Linked DNA regions of Homo sapiens: all the other regions are reported to be linked to region 2. The links are microRNA targets in miRTarBase. Many come from high-throughput screens and were not tested one by one. Region 2 holds a microRNA gene; each other region holds the end of a gene's coding sequence. Distances are from middle to middle.

Evidence for each region. The annotated mature microRNA hsa-miR-548av-3p reads AAAACUGCAGUUACUUUUGC and lies in region 2 at 2,053-2,072, opposite strand. An mRNA with a match to its seed (bases 2 to 7 or 8) in the 3' UTR can be bound and repressed. Matches are read on the target gene's strand: a 7mer-m8 pairs with bases 2 to 8, a 7mer-A1 pairs with bases 2 to 7 and ends in A, and an 8mer does both.
Region 1: miRTarBase lists E2F6 as a target of hsa-miR-548av-3p. Seed matches in the 3' UTR shown: 7mer-A1 at 2,437-2,443 and 7mer-A1 at 1,725-1,731.
Region 3: miRTarBase lists SEC14L4 as a target of hsa-miR-548av-3p. Seed matches in the 3' UTR shown: 7mer-m8 at 1,331-1,337.
Region 4: the mRNA of DNAJB14 is a reported target of hsa-miR-548av-3p. Seed matches in the 3' UTR shown: 7mer-A1 at 816-822, 7mer-m8 at 1,292-1,298 and 7mer-A1 at 2,783-2,789.

Annotation. Positions count from the first base shown.
Region 1 is chr2:11,442,981-11,447,205 of GRCh38, forward strand. It overlaps E2F6 (E2F transcription factor 6), which reads right to left. Exons shown (of 7, transcript NM_198256.4): 7 at 1,395-3,543. The coding sequence ends at 3,497. Among named protein-coding and RNA genes, the nearest start is that of E2F6, 21 kb to the right of the region's middle.
Region 2 is chr4:76,573,671-76,577,670 of GRCh38, reverse strand. It overlaps MIR548AH (microRNA 548ah), which reads right to left and starts at 2,120; the gene lies at 2,045-2,120. The region is part of intron 2 of SHROOM3 (shroom family member 3); the gene reads right to left.
Region 3 is chr22:30,486,612-30,490,836 of GRCh38, reverse strand. SEC14L4 (SEC14 like lipid binding 4) reads left to right here. Exons shown (of 12, transcript NM_174977.4): 12 at 591-1,935. The coding sequence ends at 730. Among named protein-coding and RNA genes, the nearest start is that of SEC14L3, 17 kb to the right of the region's middle.
Region 4 is chr4:99,897,207-99,901,431 of GRCh38, reverse strand. DNAJB14 (DnaJ heat shock protein family (Hsp40) member B14) reads left to right here. Exons shown (of 8, transcript NM_001031723.4): 8 at 280-4,225. The coding sequence ends at 404. Among named protein-coding and RNA genes, the nearest start is that of LAMTOR3, 4.9 kb to the right of the region's middle.

The DNA.
Region 1 (4,225 bases), not on the chromosome of region 2:
AAATTTCTGCAGCCAGCTTAAATTTCTCCCCAGAAAATGGAGTTTTCTTTTCTATCCCATCATCAGGCTGCAAAATTTTCCAAACTTTTATGCTCTGCTTCCTCTCGAACACTTTGCTGCTTAGAAATTTCTTCTGCCAGATACCCTAACTCATCTCTCTCAAAGTTCCATGCATCTCTACGGCAGAGGCAAAATGCTACCAGTCTCTTTCCATAGCAAGAGTGACCTTTACTCCCGCTTCCAATAGGTTCTTCATCTCCATCTTGACCACTTCAGCCTGGACTTCACTGTCCATATCACTATCAGCAATTTGTCAAAGCTATTCAACAAGTCTCTAGGAAGTTCTAAATGTTTCCCACATTTTCCTGTCTTCTTCTGAACCCTCCAAACTGTTCCAACCTCTGCCTGTTACTCAGTTCCAAAGTTGCTTCCACATTTTTGGGTATCTTTACAGCAGCACCCCACTCTCTGTGGTACCAATTTACTGTATTAGTCCATTCTCAAACTGCTAACAAAGACATACCCAAGGCTGGGTAATTTATAATGGAAACAGATTTAATTGACTCATAGTTCAGCATGGCTGGCTCAGGAAACTTACAATCATGGTGGAAGAGGAAGCAAATACGTCTTTCTTCATATGGTGGCAGGAGGGAGAATGAGAGCCGAGCGAAGGGAAAAGCCCTCTATTAAACCATTAGATCTCGTGAGAACTTACTATCACGAGAACAGGATGTAGGGAAACAGCTCCCATGATTCAGTTATCTCCACCTGGTCCCTCCCACGACACATGGGGATTATGGGAACTGCAATTCAAAATGAGATTTGGGTGGGGACACAGCCAAACCCTATCATACACTACATTAATATGAGAAATACCTATTAAGACATGAGCTTACACTCTGACAACATGGAATGGCAGCTGGGAACGTAGCCGCAGCAACTTATGAGGAAGGAAGATGGCCACCTGCGTGCTGTGTATAAACTGCATGCAGGGTAGGAGTAAAGGGGAGGCATGGGTGAAGCCAGGTCCAGAATAGGGATGCGATTTTGAAACACAGAGAACAGGAAGAGGATAGGATAAGAGCAAAGGCAGGGAGATGGGAAAGTTCACTGTGTGCTTCAGGTAGCGATGAGACCAATTTACTGGGGTGAAGGTCTGCAAGGCAGGTACCAAGGCAGGATTGGTAAGCAAGCCTTGGGCCCTTCTATATCCAGAGTCTGCACTTCGGCCTGAAGGAAACACGGATCGCTCAAGGTTTCTGAAGGAAGAAGCGGTGCGCACAGAGATGGGACAGTGAGGTTGGAAAGGTTAGGGTTAGTGAGGAGGAGGGGCCCAGAAACGAGTTCATGCTTATTTTATCCGTTTTAAGAATCAGAGACCCAACGCCAGAAGATGGAGTGACTCGAGAGATACTTCATTTATAACACACATCTGTAATTTACAAAGGATTTTCGTTTACATGATCTCATTTTACCTTCAGAACAATTTGTAAAGGAGAACATTTGCCACATTCACAAGTTAAGGAACTGCTGCTCAGAAATGATGGTATTACCTTTGGTAAAACCTTTGTTGGTTTTTGGGACACTGCCTTCTCCCTCCCCACCCGCCCCATTATTCCTTCTCAGGAGACTTCTTCTGTATTTCTCCTTAAATATAGATGCCCTTAGGCCTGCTGTACTCTTTAGATGACCTCTCCTACTCTTGTGGCTTAAACTATCGCATCTAAACTGACATCTGCCTGACGTACTACACAGCTCAGACTTTTCCGCTGAGCACCTGACCTACATACACACAACAACCTGCTCAACTCTTGCTTTCATCAAGCATGTCCCAAACCTAAGTTTTACCCTAGGCTTGCTCCTCCTCCTGTATTCCCTATTCTGTCAAACAGTACGACCCACCAGTCCAGTGATGATCAGCAGTGCCCCCTGCAGCTTTTCTTTGGCTAATTTCAAATAATAAAACAGAGGGAGGAAAAGCATTGAGGCTAACCGCTGGGGGAGGAGCACACTTCATCCCCAGGTGCACAGAAACACACCGGCAGGACTGCTGCAGGAAGGGCTGGTGCTCAGCAGAGGGACAGGACTGGCAAAAGCCACCAGAGCTCAGAGGTATGTGAATCCTAAACACTCAGCATTATTTTTTAATACTTTGATTTTGGATTCCGATTTTAAATCTTTTTAAACACAGTCTGAATTTGAAGTCGCTTCAAATATTTCTTTAAAAGCAATATTCAAACGATACAGGAATCTTGTACGATAGACAAACCAAATATTATTATTCTGATCTTACAATTCACTCACTCCACTCACTTATTTGTTCAGACATTTATTGAGCACTTCTTAAGGGCCAGGCATGGTGTGAGGCACTGGGATGTAACAGTGATTATGACAAAGTCCCTCAAGGAGCTCACAGTCTAATGGTAAACTACAGAGTAAACTGAGGCACAGAGTGGTAAATGACTTACCCAATGAGGTAGAAACAGCTAGGTATGTGAAAATGTGGGAGCAGAGCTGGAGAGAGGGCAAGGTACAACTTGTCCTAAGTAAAACCCCTTGGACTGACTCAACAGCAAGGCTGCATACACAAACATTACAAAATCTACTTGCAAAAACCTGAAAGGAGTTTCCAATTATCACCATGACTGAATTCATGTTTCACAATGAATTCAGCTATTTCCTGATGGCATTTCTATCCTTGCCCCCAAAGCCACTGGGCATGCCACCAGTCTGCTGGGAGACAGCAATTAGGTAGACAGCTTAAAACCAAGAAGTATCTGACTCCAATTTTAGCACTGAAAACCATATTAAAATACTTTAATTAAATCCACAAACATAAATGTGTAGCACATTTATGATACTTCTACATGTAGAAGTTTGGAAAAAGTCTCTTCTAACCCTCATCCAGAGGATTCTAATAAGTTATAGGTACCAAAGAGATTAGAGAATTTGTCTGTCACTTTCCATATATACATTATTTTGGCTGTACAAGGGTGAAAAGTGTCACTCAGACATATTTCGTAAGTAATCTCAACATTATACAGATATATACAAAGACATCACATTTAAATTCGTGTGTACATCTATGCAATGTACAACAGTAACTGCAAACATGAACCAGTGTAAGGCAATTTCTTTTGTGATATATGACATACTCCTTGAAGGGAAGGGTAGAGTCCACAAAGAACTGTCCATTTCAGCCTGACTGTCTGTCTTCATGACACTCTGTGATGAAGCTACTTCAGGAGGCAAGATGTCTATTTCACTGACAAAAAGCAGTGAATAATTATAAAAGGAGTTGTTTTCAAATGTGGAAACCACAATTACTCAGTAATCTAAGTGGTGAACTCCTCAAAGACACTACTGGCCATGATGCCGCTACTGAGAACGAGAGCACTTCATGGATAATTTATTGCTCTGAGAATCAAATTTGATGCGTAATTCTCCACGAAGATATTCCCAAAAAACTCAGTGATACATAAATTCTCAAATGCCATCAGTTGCTTACTTCAAGCAATTCTTCACTTTGCTGAGGATTTTCTTCTGGAAAAGAACACGAGAGAGAAATACACCTAAGTGAATACACCTAAGTGAAGGTCTGATAGGCAAATACGTAAAAGAATACACAATCTGACTACTTCAGAAAACCCTGAAGATGCCTGGTCAAGAACACGTATTCTCAGGTTAATGGCATAAGGCTAATTTTTTCAGCCTCTCAAGAATAAACTGGAACTCTAACTTGTACCTGAAAGCACCCGTCCGAGAATGGAGGAAACCTTCCCTTATTAGGGCTTTATTAGTTTCTTTTGGAGCCGTCACGACTCCCCCAGTCTTCGTAATCCTTGTGTCTTTGTGCTGTTGTCTGCATGTGGGCAACAGCCCCCTCTTCTGGTCATTACAGGTATTCTTCGTCAGTGAAAGCTTCCTATCGGTCCAGCCTGTGGCTCTGCAAGGGCCACCTGAAGACCACCCTGGCCCGCAGTGCTTGTCAAGTTCTCCAGTTGGCTGGGTCTTTGTTCGGATGTCGGTGGAGCTGTTGGCTGGGTACTGTGATGGCTTCTGCCCAGGCCGGTCACAGGATGCTGGTCCCCTGCTCAGGCAATTCCACTATTTGGGATCTGCTGTTGGACAGCACTGCAAGCTGGGTTCCGAGGTTAGATGGAGTCACTGCTCTGGCCAGATGGGTCCAGAGGCGACGTCCTTAGAAATGTGCAACTGAGGACTG
Region 2 (4,000 bases):
TGTGTTACGCATAATAAGTTCAGATTTTACCTAGACTGGAGCATTTTTCTAAAGATTCTTTAATTCATCCTTTAACAAGATTGATAAACGTGAATTGTTATATTAAAGAATATTATTTTATTGGGTAGACAAATAATACAGGAGGCAGAGGTATTGGTCTACAGCCCCACCATCTTCCAATACCAGTCCCTGTCCTTTATTGCTGCCTCTAGGGAGGCTGGAACCATTCACCTGATGCCAAATGATTGGAAGAACAGGGCAATGAAGGGACTTAGAATAATTCCTAGTTAACCAATGTACTGCTGACAACAATACACAGTAAAGAGTAAACAATCAGACCTTCCCCAGCACCTCGTCCCTTTGGTGGATGGGGAAATTTGATTTGCCCATATTTTTAATGTAGAAAGATATAGACCACTAGGAATTAATTTACACAGAGGGCTTTTTAGCCTGTGATATGCGAAAATTTCAAGTATAGATTATCTTTTATCTCAACAGACACACTGACACCGATTACCCTTTTGGAACGCTAGAGTCAGATCTATTTGACCAGCTCCTTCTTATACTTTAGGTAGATCAGAAATTCAATTAAGGTTTGGTGAAATACTCATGTTTACCAGGAGCATTTGTTCCAGTATTCAGTTCTGAACCCTAACCTCCAGGATTACGTTCAATGAATAATCAGCTGAGTTGGCCATGTCACCATTCACCAAATCAATACCTATTGCTTAAACTGTTTTTAACCCAGTTTTTATTTTTGCTTTAATCACCAAAGTCCTTTATTTTTATTTTTAAAAATTTAATTTAAAAATTAAAAATATTTATAACAAAATTTACCATCTTACCCATTTTTTATTTTAACATTTTAATTTTTAATTTTTGTGGTTATAAAGTAGGTGTATACATTTATGGGGTACGTGAGATGTTTTGATACAGGCATGCAACACATAATAATCACATCATGAAGAATGGGGTATCCATCTCCTCAAGCCATTATCTTTTGTGTTACAAACTACCCAACTACACGATTTTAGTTATTTTTAAATGTACAATTACATTATTATGGATTATAGTCACCTTGTTGTGCTATCAAAGAGTAGGTATTAGTCATCCTACCTTTTTGTATGCATTAACCATCCCTACCTCCCCACCAGCCTCCTACTACCCTTCCCAGCCTCTGTAACCATCCTTCTACTCTCTGTGTCCATGAGTTCCATTGTTTTGATTTTTAGATCCCACAAACAAGTGAGAATATGCAAAGTTTGTCTTTCTGTGCCTGGCTCAATTCACTTAACATAGTGATCTCCAGTTTGATCTATGTTGTTGCAAATGGCAGGATCTCATTTTTTTAAATGGCTGAATAATATTCCATTGTGTGTAAGTACCACATTTTCTTTATCCATTCATCTGTTGATGGACACTTAAGTTGCTTCCAAATCTTAGCTATTGTAAAGAATGTTGCAACAAACACAGGAGTCCAGATACCTCTTAGAGGTACTGATTTCCTTTCTTTGGGGTATATACCCCATAGTGGGATTGCTGGATCGTATGGTAGCTTTCTTTTTAGGTTTTTGAGAAACCTTGAACTGTTCTCCGTAGTGGTTGTACTAATTTGCATTCCTACCAACACTGTACGAGGGTTCCCTTTTCTCCACATCCTCACTAGGATTTGTTACTGCCTGTCTTTTGGATATAAGCCATTTTAACGGGGGTGGGATGATATAATATCTCATTGTAGTTTAGATTTGCGTTTCTCTAATAATCAATGATGTTGAGCACATTTTCATATATCTGTTTGCCATTTATATGTCTTCTTTTGAGAAGTTTAACAATATTGATTCTTGCAATTTGTGAACATGGAATATCTTTCCATTTTTTGTATCTTCTTCAACTCCTTTCATCAGTGTATTATATTAATAGTTTTTATTATAGAGATCTTTCACTTATTTGGTTAATTCCTGGGTATTTAATTTTATTTGTGGCTATTGTAAATGGGATTACTTTTTAAATTTCTTGTTCAGATTGTTCACTGTTGGCATATATTGGGCTGGTGCAAAAGTAACTGCAGTTTTTGTCATTACTTTTATTGGCAAACACTGCAATCACTTTTGCACCAACCTAATAGAAATGCTGCTGATTTTGGTATGTTGATTTTGTATCCTGTGACTTGACTGAATTTGTTTATCAATTCTGCTAGTTTTTTTGGTGGAGTCTTTAGGTTTTTCCAAATATAAGATCATCTTATCTGCAAATAAAAATAATTTGCTTTCTTCCTTTTCAGTTTGGATGCCTTTTCTTTCTCTTGTCTAATTGCTCTAGCTAGGACTTCCAGTACTATGTTGAATACCAGTAGTGAAAGTGGGTAGCCTTGTTGTGCTTCAGATCTTAGAGGAAAGGCTTTCAATTTTTTTCCCATTCAGTGTGATACTAGTTGTGGGTCTGTCATCTATGGCTTTTATTATGTTGAAGTATGTTTCTCCTATACCCAGTTTTTTGAAGGACTTTTATCATGAAGGGATGTTTATCATGAAAGGATCAAATGCTTTTTCAGCTTCACTTGAAATGATCATCTGGTTTTGTTCTTCATTCTATTGAGAAGATATATAGTATTGATTGATTTATATATGTTGAGCCATCCTTGCATCCCAGAGATAAATCCCGCTTGGTTGTGATGAATGATCTTGTTGGTGTACTATTGAATTTGGTTTGCTGGTATACCCGTTTTTTAAGGGTGCACTTCAGTGGCATTAAGTATATTCCCATTTTTGTAGATCCAATGTCCAGAACTCTTTTCATCTCGCAGAACTGAAACTCTGTACCTACTCAACAAAACTCCCTAATCTCCCCTCCCCCAACCTGTGGCAACTGCCATTCTACATTTTTTGTGTATGAATTTGACTACCCTGGGTACCTTATACAAGTGGAATCATTTACAGTATTTGTCTTTTTGTGACTGGCTTATTTCACTTAGCATAATGTCCTTAGGGTTCATCCATGTTGTAGCATATATCAGAATTTCCTTTGCTTTTAAGGCTATACATTTCTTTTTTTAATCACAAAATGATTTGAGTTTATGTAGCTAATCAATCAATTAGATTAAGAGGGAGTATCCGGTCTGTCTAATAAGAGTTTAGGCATGAAAAATGGTAAGAAAGGCGTTGGTAGAGAGGGAGAGAGAGAATTTGCTGAAATATTTAATGCCATGGTTCTTTAGGGTGCATCAGAATCATGGGGAAGACTTGGTAAATCAGATTGCTAGGCTCAAACTCCAGAGTTCCCAATTCATTAGGCTTAGAGCAGGGCCTGGGAATTTGTATTTTCCAGAAGTTCCTGGGCATGATCACACTTTTGACAACCATTGTAACCTATCCAGGGTGAGGCCTAGAGGATTCTAATTGCCAAAATTTTCCCATCGTGCAAAGAAGATACCCCTCCCAACTAAGACAAGAAGCTTGAAGTTATAGAAGTAGGGAAGCACAGAGAAGAGTGAGAAATAGTGAGAAAACCCAGCCCTCAAGATCCCAGCAACTTGTGGAAATGAGGGAAAAGATGGTGGCAAGTCAAGCTGTGAGGACCAAGTTCTGATTTCTCTTCTAGCCTCAGGGAGGAGAGGGAAAGTGTGTGAGCTAAGTGAGGAGAATGTCAAAGGGCTCAGGGAACCCTGGCTCCACTGCACCATTTGAGACCCTAGGAGAAGGTCACTGGAGTAGGTCTGGCCTGGCTCAATTTCGAGGTCTCTAGAGGTCCAGACAGAAGGAAGAATCTCAGACATCAGACGGCAACCAGCAGACTTGCAAGGAGGCAACTATGGTGGGGTGAGATGATCCTAGGATGGGCCCTGGGTCAGGAGTTGCTGGGATGAGAGTTTGGCAGATGCTAAGTTGTCTGAAGCTAAGGGGAGCTGAGCAGAGACTGAATCTGTAAGTGTGGGGTTGCCAGCAATCCCAGGGGCATTGCCCAGGCCATGGCTGACCATGGATTTACCAGCTGCAGGATTCAG
Region 3 (4,225 bases), not on the chromosome of region 2:
GGACATCTGGATAAAGGAATCCCAGTACCTCCCCTCCCTTGCTCTGTGACCGCTGAAAGATCATATCACCTCTCCAAGCCTCAGTTTTCTCCTCTGTAAAATGAGGATGACATTGCCTTCCACATGGGGCTGCTTTGAGGATTCAGGGGCTATAATGTGTGATGGAATCCATGGTTCATGGAGAGGCCCAAGAGCTACCTGTGCAACCGCAACTAGGCGAGGACGCAGTACGAGCATACTGTGTCCGTGGGCCACAGCTCCTCCCTGCAGGTGGAGCTCGAGATCCCGTTCCCAGGCCGCCTGCTCCCTGGCTGTGTGCTGTTCTATATGCTGATGACCATCATGATTCCTTCATGTAGCGCAAGCCACCATGGAGATGGCAGCGAGCAATGGGCTTAGGGCTGGGCACAGGCTGGCCCTCAGGCCCCACCCACTGTCCTGGACAGCTCATTTCCAAGGGTTCCAGGGATGCAGGACGTTCCAGGGATGCAGCTCATTCCCAAGGGTTCCAGGGATGCACCCATGCAGGGCTGGCTCTTCCTGCAGATGTGCGGGGTTTGTGCTCCCTGATCACCTCTCCATCACTGCAGATGTCCTGCGCTTCGACAACACCTACAGCCGGATGCATGCCAAGAAGCTCAGCTACACTGTGGAGGTGCTGCTTCCCGACAAGGCCTCTGAGGAGACGCTGCAGAGTCTCAAGGCGATGAGACCCTCCCCAACACAGTGAAGACCCCAGCCACCTCTACCTGTGCACTCCAACCCCTTCACACCCACCCCTCTGACCCCTGCCTTCCCAGGCAGGGTGGTGCTGGAGGTGGCTGCAGAGAGCCACTTGTCCCACGTCACCATTTCATCTCATTGTAGGCTCACCTGGCACAGTGGCCAAGCAGGAAGGGGCCACCAGTGCATAGCCCATGCTGAAGATTCAGACAGGAACCTCTTTCCCTGTTCCCAGAGAATGCGGCTGAGAATGAGAACGCTGAAGATGATCCAGTCCACTGAGGATGGGTCCTGCTTGCAGAAGCTGCCCTTTCACCCATCTTGACAAGATCCAGCCACCCAGGACTCACCCATGCCTGGTGTTCCAGCTTCAGGGGGTGTGCGTGGTTCCTAGGTCCTGTGGACATCACAGCTTCAGGCCTGAAGAGCAGAGAAGCCCTGTTCTCTGCATGTAGGAGGTCAGCAGGGGTGGGCAGGCCCAGCTGGAGGCAGCTGGGTGAGGGTCCTGGTTCCAGCAGAGCACTGGGGCCCATCCAAGTTTGTTCTGCCACCACTGGATGGAAAATTGGAAATGGACTGGGCGTGGTGGCTCACGCCTATAATCCCAGCAGTTTGGGAGGCTGAGTTGGGCAGATCACCTGAGATCAGGAGTTCGGGACCAGCCTGGGCAACATGGTGAAACCCTGTCTCTACTAAAAATACAAAAATTAGCCGGGCATGGTGGCGTGCACCTGTAATCCCAGCTACTCAGGAGGCTGAGGCAGGAGAATCGCTTGTACCCAGGAGGCGGAGGTTGTAGTGAGCTGAGATCGTGCCACTGCACTCCAGCCTGGGCAACAGAGCCAGACTCCGTCTCTAAACAAACAAACAAACAAACAAACAAATAAAGAAAGAACATTGGACATGGAGAGGTGGGGCCTGGCATGGGTAACCATCAGAGGAAAAAGCCATGCTCAGCCTTCCAGTTGAGTGGGTAACGACTGAGTCTCCAGGGAATTCCCAGTGACCTCCCCTCCACACCTGCTGTGATCCTGCCAACATTTAGCTTTGGTTCTCTTGGCAGCTGCACCATTCATGGGTGCATATACGTAGAGTCTGAACAGGTGCTCTGCTGCTAGAAACAGCAAACCATCTAGATTAAACTCCTAAAGCCAGTGCCACGAGGCATTCCTGTTCCAACTGGGTGTTTGAGCAGATTGGCAAAAAAAAAAAAAAAAAAAAAAATGGCTGCGCTGGCTCCAAGGAGATGGCCTGGGCTGTCGGGCAAGAGTCACAGGACATCCCCATGTCCAGGGGCTGCCTCTGCATCGGAGATGTGACAGGCATCCCCACTACCCTGTTGCACTGCATGGCCACGCTGTCTGCTGCTTTCCCAGATGCAGTGATATTTGGAGTGCCCAGAGGCACTTGGGCTTCCATGGCAGGCTGTGGCCAACTGGAGCCGGGAGGACCTGTGCTAAATTTCACAAGGCCCACCGGTTGTCATGATGGGGGATTGTAATGCCTCACTTCAGCTTTGACATCCTCTGCCTTGATGTCCTCTGCCTAAAAACCAGGGGTTCCTAGACTTGAACTCTGATTCTTGCCCATGTAACTACAGCCGATTTTCCATCAGCACAGCCTTGTCTGGTTTCCTTGCAGGCAGCAAGGATTGCTCTGCCCCATGCACAAGTGTTTCCTGAGACTCTGATCACAGGGCCGTGATCACAAATACGGGCTGGCTGCGGGGGTGGCAAACAAAAATGGGGTCAGGTGCAGGCACTAGTGACTGAATTGCAGTGAGCAGTGATCGCCTGCAGAGGTGAGAGCAGAATCTCCTACCAATTCAGGAGGGGAGGGGCACACTGGGAGCTCAGCAGGGAGCAGGGGCACATGTCCTCAGCAACCCATTTCCAATTATTTTTTTTCTTTTCTTTTCTGAGATAGAGTCTCTGTTGCCTAGACTGGAGTACAGTGGCGCGATCTCAGCTCACTACAACATTCACCTCCCAGGTTCAAGCGATTCTCCCACCTCAGCCTCCCGAGTAGCTGGGACTACAGACATGCACCACCACACCTGGCTGATTTTTGTATTTTTAGTAGAGATGGGGTTTCACCATGTTGGCCAGGCTGATCTCAAACCCCTGACCTCAAGTGATCTGCCTGGCTCAGCCTCCCAAAGTGCTGGGATTACAGGTATGAGCCACCATGCCTGGCCTCCATGTCTAATTTTTAACACTGTCACTTTTTTACAAAACTGAAAAAAAAAAGTCACCCAGAGAGGGGCAGTGGCTTGCCCAAAGTTTGTTTCTTCATTTATTCACTCATTGATATTAATTTAATTTAATTTAATTTTTTAAAAGTAGAGACAGGCCGGGCGCGGTGGCTCACGCCTGTAATCCCAGCACTTTGGGAGGCCGAGGCGGGCAGATCACGAGATCAGGAGATGGAGACCATCCTGGCTAACACGGTGAAACCCTGTCTCTACTAAAAATACAAAAAATTAGCTGGGCGTGATGGCGGGCACCTGTAGTCCCAGCTACTCGAGGGGCTGAGGCAGGAGAATGACGTGAATCTGGAGGCGGAGCTTGCAGTGAGGCGAGATCACGCCACTGCACTCCAGCCTGGGCGACAGAGCGAGATTCCGTCTCAAAAAAAAAAAGAAAAAAAAGTAGAGACAGGGGTCTTGCTATGTTGCCCAGGCTGGTCTTGAACTTCTAGGCTCAAGCCATCCTCCCTGCCTCAGCTTCCCAAAGTGCTGAGGTCACAGGTGTGAGCCACTGAGCCCGGCCTGATTTTGGGTGTTTATTGAGTATCTGCCCAGCACCAGGCATGGCAGACTCTGGGGACACCGAGGACCCTGGGCTGACCCAACTGTATTAACCGGAGGTTTGCGCTCATGGAGGGAGGGAGGTGGAAGTGACACCAGTGATCAGTTATCAAGTGGGTGCATTGTCACCATGCATGCTTGGTTGGGGGCAGGAGCCAAACTCTGGGGGAGCACCCAGCCAAGAAACCTGACAAGGGGTCACGTATGCTTTGTCCAAGGAGGAGGTGACCCTGAAGGGAGAGCTGTCGGATGTGCGGGATGATGGCAGGCGAGCCTTCCAGACAGGAATGGGGGGTGGGCGGTCAGTGGGGCAGGGGTGTCAGAGGCCAAAGGAAAGCTGGAAGGGCTCTCCCAGCCTGGGGCAACGCTGGTAACAACTCACTGGTATTTCCTATTTCTTCATGGATAACTGTGTACACATTAAATAGTTATTAATAATTAATAAAACCATTTTATAATGCCGGTTACAAAACAGCCGTGTAGTTTGTCAGGAAAGAATGGCAAAATCTTGGCAGGAGGCCACAGATCAAAACTCTTGCTCAAAATGAGGCAATTGGAAATACCCAGGCCTCACCTGTCCAGATAATGGAGGTGGGACCTGCTCTCCCTAGCCCATCTCCTCCCTGGAAGTCCCCACAGTCTTTGGGGAGAAGCAGGTGAGGAGGGCAGCAGGTCAAGGACCCATGGGCGTGT
Region 4 (4,225 bases), 23 Mb from region 2:
ACCACTGGGGAACAGGAGTAGAGAGAAAGGATTCCAACGTGAGTTGACAGGATTCTATCCTTATTTATTTTCTGTGTTTGTTTTACCTGCTATACTTCAAATAAAGTTTTCATTAAAATTTTTTTCCTACTAAAATGGCTTTTAGGAATTGTACTTTGATTTTTTTTAAGTCAGTTAATCAAAATATATCAAAGGGCTCCTGTAAAGCATCACTTGAGCTTAAGCAACTAGGTGACAAAAATTTTATTCAATTAGCAAAATATTTTTCTTTATTAACAGAAACAGATATGCAGTATGCAGCAAAAGTATACCGTGATGATCGACTCCGAAGGAAGGCAGATGCCTTGAGCATGGACAACTGTAAAGAATTAGAGCGGCTTACCAGTCTTTATAAAGGAGGATGAACTGGAATTTTTATTTATACCTTTTAGCGTACTCTTTATTTTTTCTGTAAGTAAGTTTGGTTTCATCATGAGGGATGAAGGAAAAGATTTGATACTGAAAACTAAACTGAATAGTTGGTTCCTGAAATCTTGGACTGTTTATGACCTACTGGCTCCTTTAAATAGTAACTGAAAACTAAAATGGAATATTTTAGTTAACGCTTCTACAAGTATTTTCATTTTAAAAGCTTACATGATTCCTAACTAAAGTGTCATGAGAAAGGATTATCACACCTGTAGCAATTTCCAGTTTTAGTGATTCTCCATTTTTTCCCTTGTCATGTAAATATTTATGGAATGATCATTTTGTGTACATACAGGTTACTGCTTTTTTATTTAAATTCTTTTAGTGTTTAGCTCCATGAGACACTTCAGTTTAAATTGATGGAATAAATGTTATATGACACATTTACATTTTCCTTATCAAGGTGTCAAATATGTGGACTTTAAACAATGAAACTTTTTCAAAAAGAAAAAACAAAAACTTTAACTTTGTGTAAAATCTTATAGTATTATCAGCTTAGAGGGAATTGATATTTTTAATATTGCCGTTATATTCCAAAATATATATTGAGATAAATGAACTGGTGTAGAATATCAGTTTGCTATTTAGTTTTATGAATTACTATACATATACATGCATAGAAATGAAATGCTATACTGATAAATTTTAAAGAAAATATGAGGAAATGGCTATAAATATTAAACTAAAAGGGTCTTCAACAGTAAAGTGCAGTTATGTCATTTAAAATTCCAATACTTTAAAGGCCACCAAATTTTGATGTATATGTCCTTGAAGGGCTGCTAAAATTTATGAAGAGGACTCACATTTTCCCCCATAGAAATTTGCAGTTTCTTGGTGATCATTTAAGCAGGATCCAAAGAAGTTCCTTTACAAATAAGTAATAAGAAAAATGAGTACTAAAATACAGCTTTGTGCCTTTTAACCCTATGCCAACTCCTAAACATATAAGTAGATTACAGTATACTTATCTGATCAGAGCATGATCTGTTTGGCCACATGCAAGTGTGAGCAGAAATAGAGCAGCACGTAGAATAGTAACTTAAAGCAAGTCATCCTTTAAAAATTCTGAGCTAAAATCTATTTACCATTGAGTAATTGAATTAATCCCATAGGAATAAGCTCCTTGTAAGTAAATCCATGATATGAATTAGAAAAAAAAAACAGCTGGAAATTGAAGTTTTTGATGCCTGTATACTGGATATGAAACTATTTGATTTCTAGTCTTCTGTGTTTAGCAGTTGTAATATTTTAATGATTTTGCTTCATACTCGGTTAATGGAACATAAACATATCTTTGATACTTCTTTGTGAGTGAGAGAATGCTAGATAGGGTGGCTTTGTTCTTTGTTTAAGTTTTTTTTCCTGAATGTAGTTAATTTATGGCATCTGTTGAATAAAACTGCTAAAATGACCTCTTAAAAATGTTCTGTTGTATCCCCTTTTCCAGGTGAATCAATAGAAATGCCTGATTGAATTAGTAGGTTAAACTAAACAACATACTGTCATAGGAAAACTGGAGAGCTTAACCAACTTGCTCTTAGAAATGTTACCTTAAAAAAAAAAAAAAAGCAGTGCTTAAGAGAAAATACAATTTTAATTATTTTGTTGAGCCTGCAGAGTAAGTTTTTAAAAATATAAGTTCATAGCATTTTAATTAACTTTGAAAGTTCATATGCATCAGAAAATTTATGAAAATTTGAATGAAAAAAATTTCATCTATTTATTTTTCTAATTTTAATGGCAAATTTACACTATTATGGCTGATAATTCTGTGAACTTACCTTCTTGTTGACTGATTCTTTTTCCCTTAATCCCAGCTTTAAGGAGATAGGTGAAGTTATTGTACAAAGTTAAGTGATACCATAAAGTATATATTATAAAGTCATACATGGCTTTTGGACAGTATTATATTTCAGTTGCAGTGCTGCATTCCATTAAATTTCATAAAATGCTAGGGAAAATGTGTTTGATAAAATTTTCTGCAGTGAGAAATGACAGACTGAGTGCCTGACAATTTAAGCCACATATGAAGTATGCAAGTAAAGATTCAGTCCTTAATGTCATCTATATCATGGTATAAAAGCTCAACAAGTATCTTATAATTTGGAGTTAACTTTATAAAGTAAGAAGAGTTTGGATATCTTGATAAAAGATTTTCATGTTTGCTGCTTTTTTTATAATAAAAATCCCAACATTTTGCCATCTTATGTTTAGCTACATGAACTTCGCAATTTCATCGGCTCATTCTAATGACCACCTAAAAGTCCTCAATCTTTGAATATTGCTTTATTAGCTCCTCTAACTGGTATTCTAACAGTTTAGCAGCACTTATATTTATTAATGCTTTACATTTTTACCCCTTTTTGTGTAAACACAAATACACCCATGCATATACACACAAACATTATTGTCCTTGTGAGGGTTTGGGGGAAATGAAAAATAGTACCTTTCTCCTCTTCTTTTGATTCCTTAGTTCCCAAATAGACTGGTGCTAGTCATTTAGTCATCTGTAAATTTCGAAATGTAGTTTGATTAAATGTGAACTGAATTCTCAGCAATGAAAAATGTCAAGTTGAATTCATCTAATAAGTGAAAATAATATATTTTGTAAACAGATTACATTTGAACACCTAAATAAGTATTTGTTTCATAATCATTACATGCTTGTTTATGATTTACAAAGATTTGGTAGAGAAAAGTACAGTCCTTAAGGCATATATATGCCAATGCATTAAACTACTCAGCTTTTGTGCCAGCTCAGGTGTTCATAGGAACAGGAATGTGGAATACCAGCTTTTTACTTTAATTATACTTTTATGCTGAATTTTTCTTCCAGTTAAACCTTTAATTACACTAGTATGTAAAGTAGTTACTGAGAAAAATAAGTTTTTGATTTCCCTTCTGTTGATCTGTAACATTTTTAAATGAAGCTATTTAACACATGACATGCTAATGTTACTTAATGGATTCCTATGTATTTCATTAAAAAAAAGTCTCCCACCTGTGTTAAGACAGCTAAATATTTCTTGATGTTGGCTTGAGGACCAAGTGAGCCATCTTGCCAGTTAAGCAAGTTTTATATCAGAGGACCAAATGGTTAAGAAGAGAATTTGTACATTTCTTGAGCTTCCCCATGTGAAGCTTGGGTTCAGTACTATCCTATTACTATCCATCTTCATAATGAGTGAAGCAAACTGAAAGGGAATTCATAATCTTTTTTCTTATCTGAACAGAAAAACTAATGAAAATCAACAATAAATCTTTATTTTAATTTTCATTCAACAGCTGAAAAACCATGTCTGTTGACCACATTGGACCATTGCCTAGTTAAAATCCATAAAATTCCCTATAAACCAATGAAAAGAAACTTGTCTGGCAATAATTTCCAACATTTTAAATTCTAATTTTTAGTTACAAAGAAAAAGGATAGAATGAGGCTTTTCAAGGAATTCTTGCTCATCCCTTCAATTATTTGGCAGGTAAAACAGTCCTAGAATTCAGCTTCCTTTTTGGTTTTATTACTATTAAATAGATACTTTCATATAAATGGAAACACTTTTCCTCAAAACATTAATTCAAAACATACTCCTTATATTAAGGATTATAGCACCATATTTTTTGTATATTCCCTATGTGTAACTTTTTCCTGTTGGTATGTGATATTTTTCATTTAATATGACTATCTGCTGGTGTTGGGGCCAATAGATTTGTGAATATTCTGTGGATGTGTCTATGTATAGGTGTATATATATATATA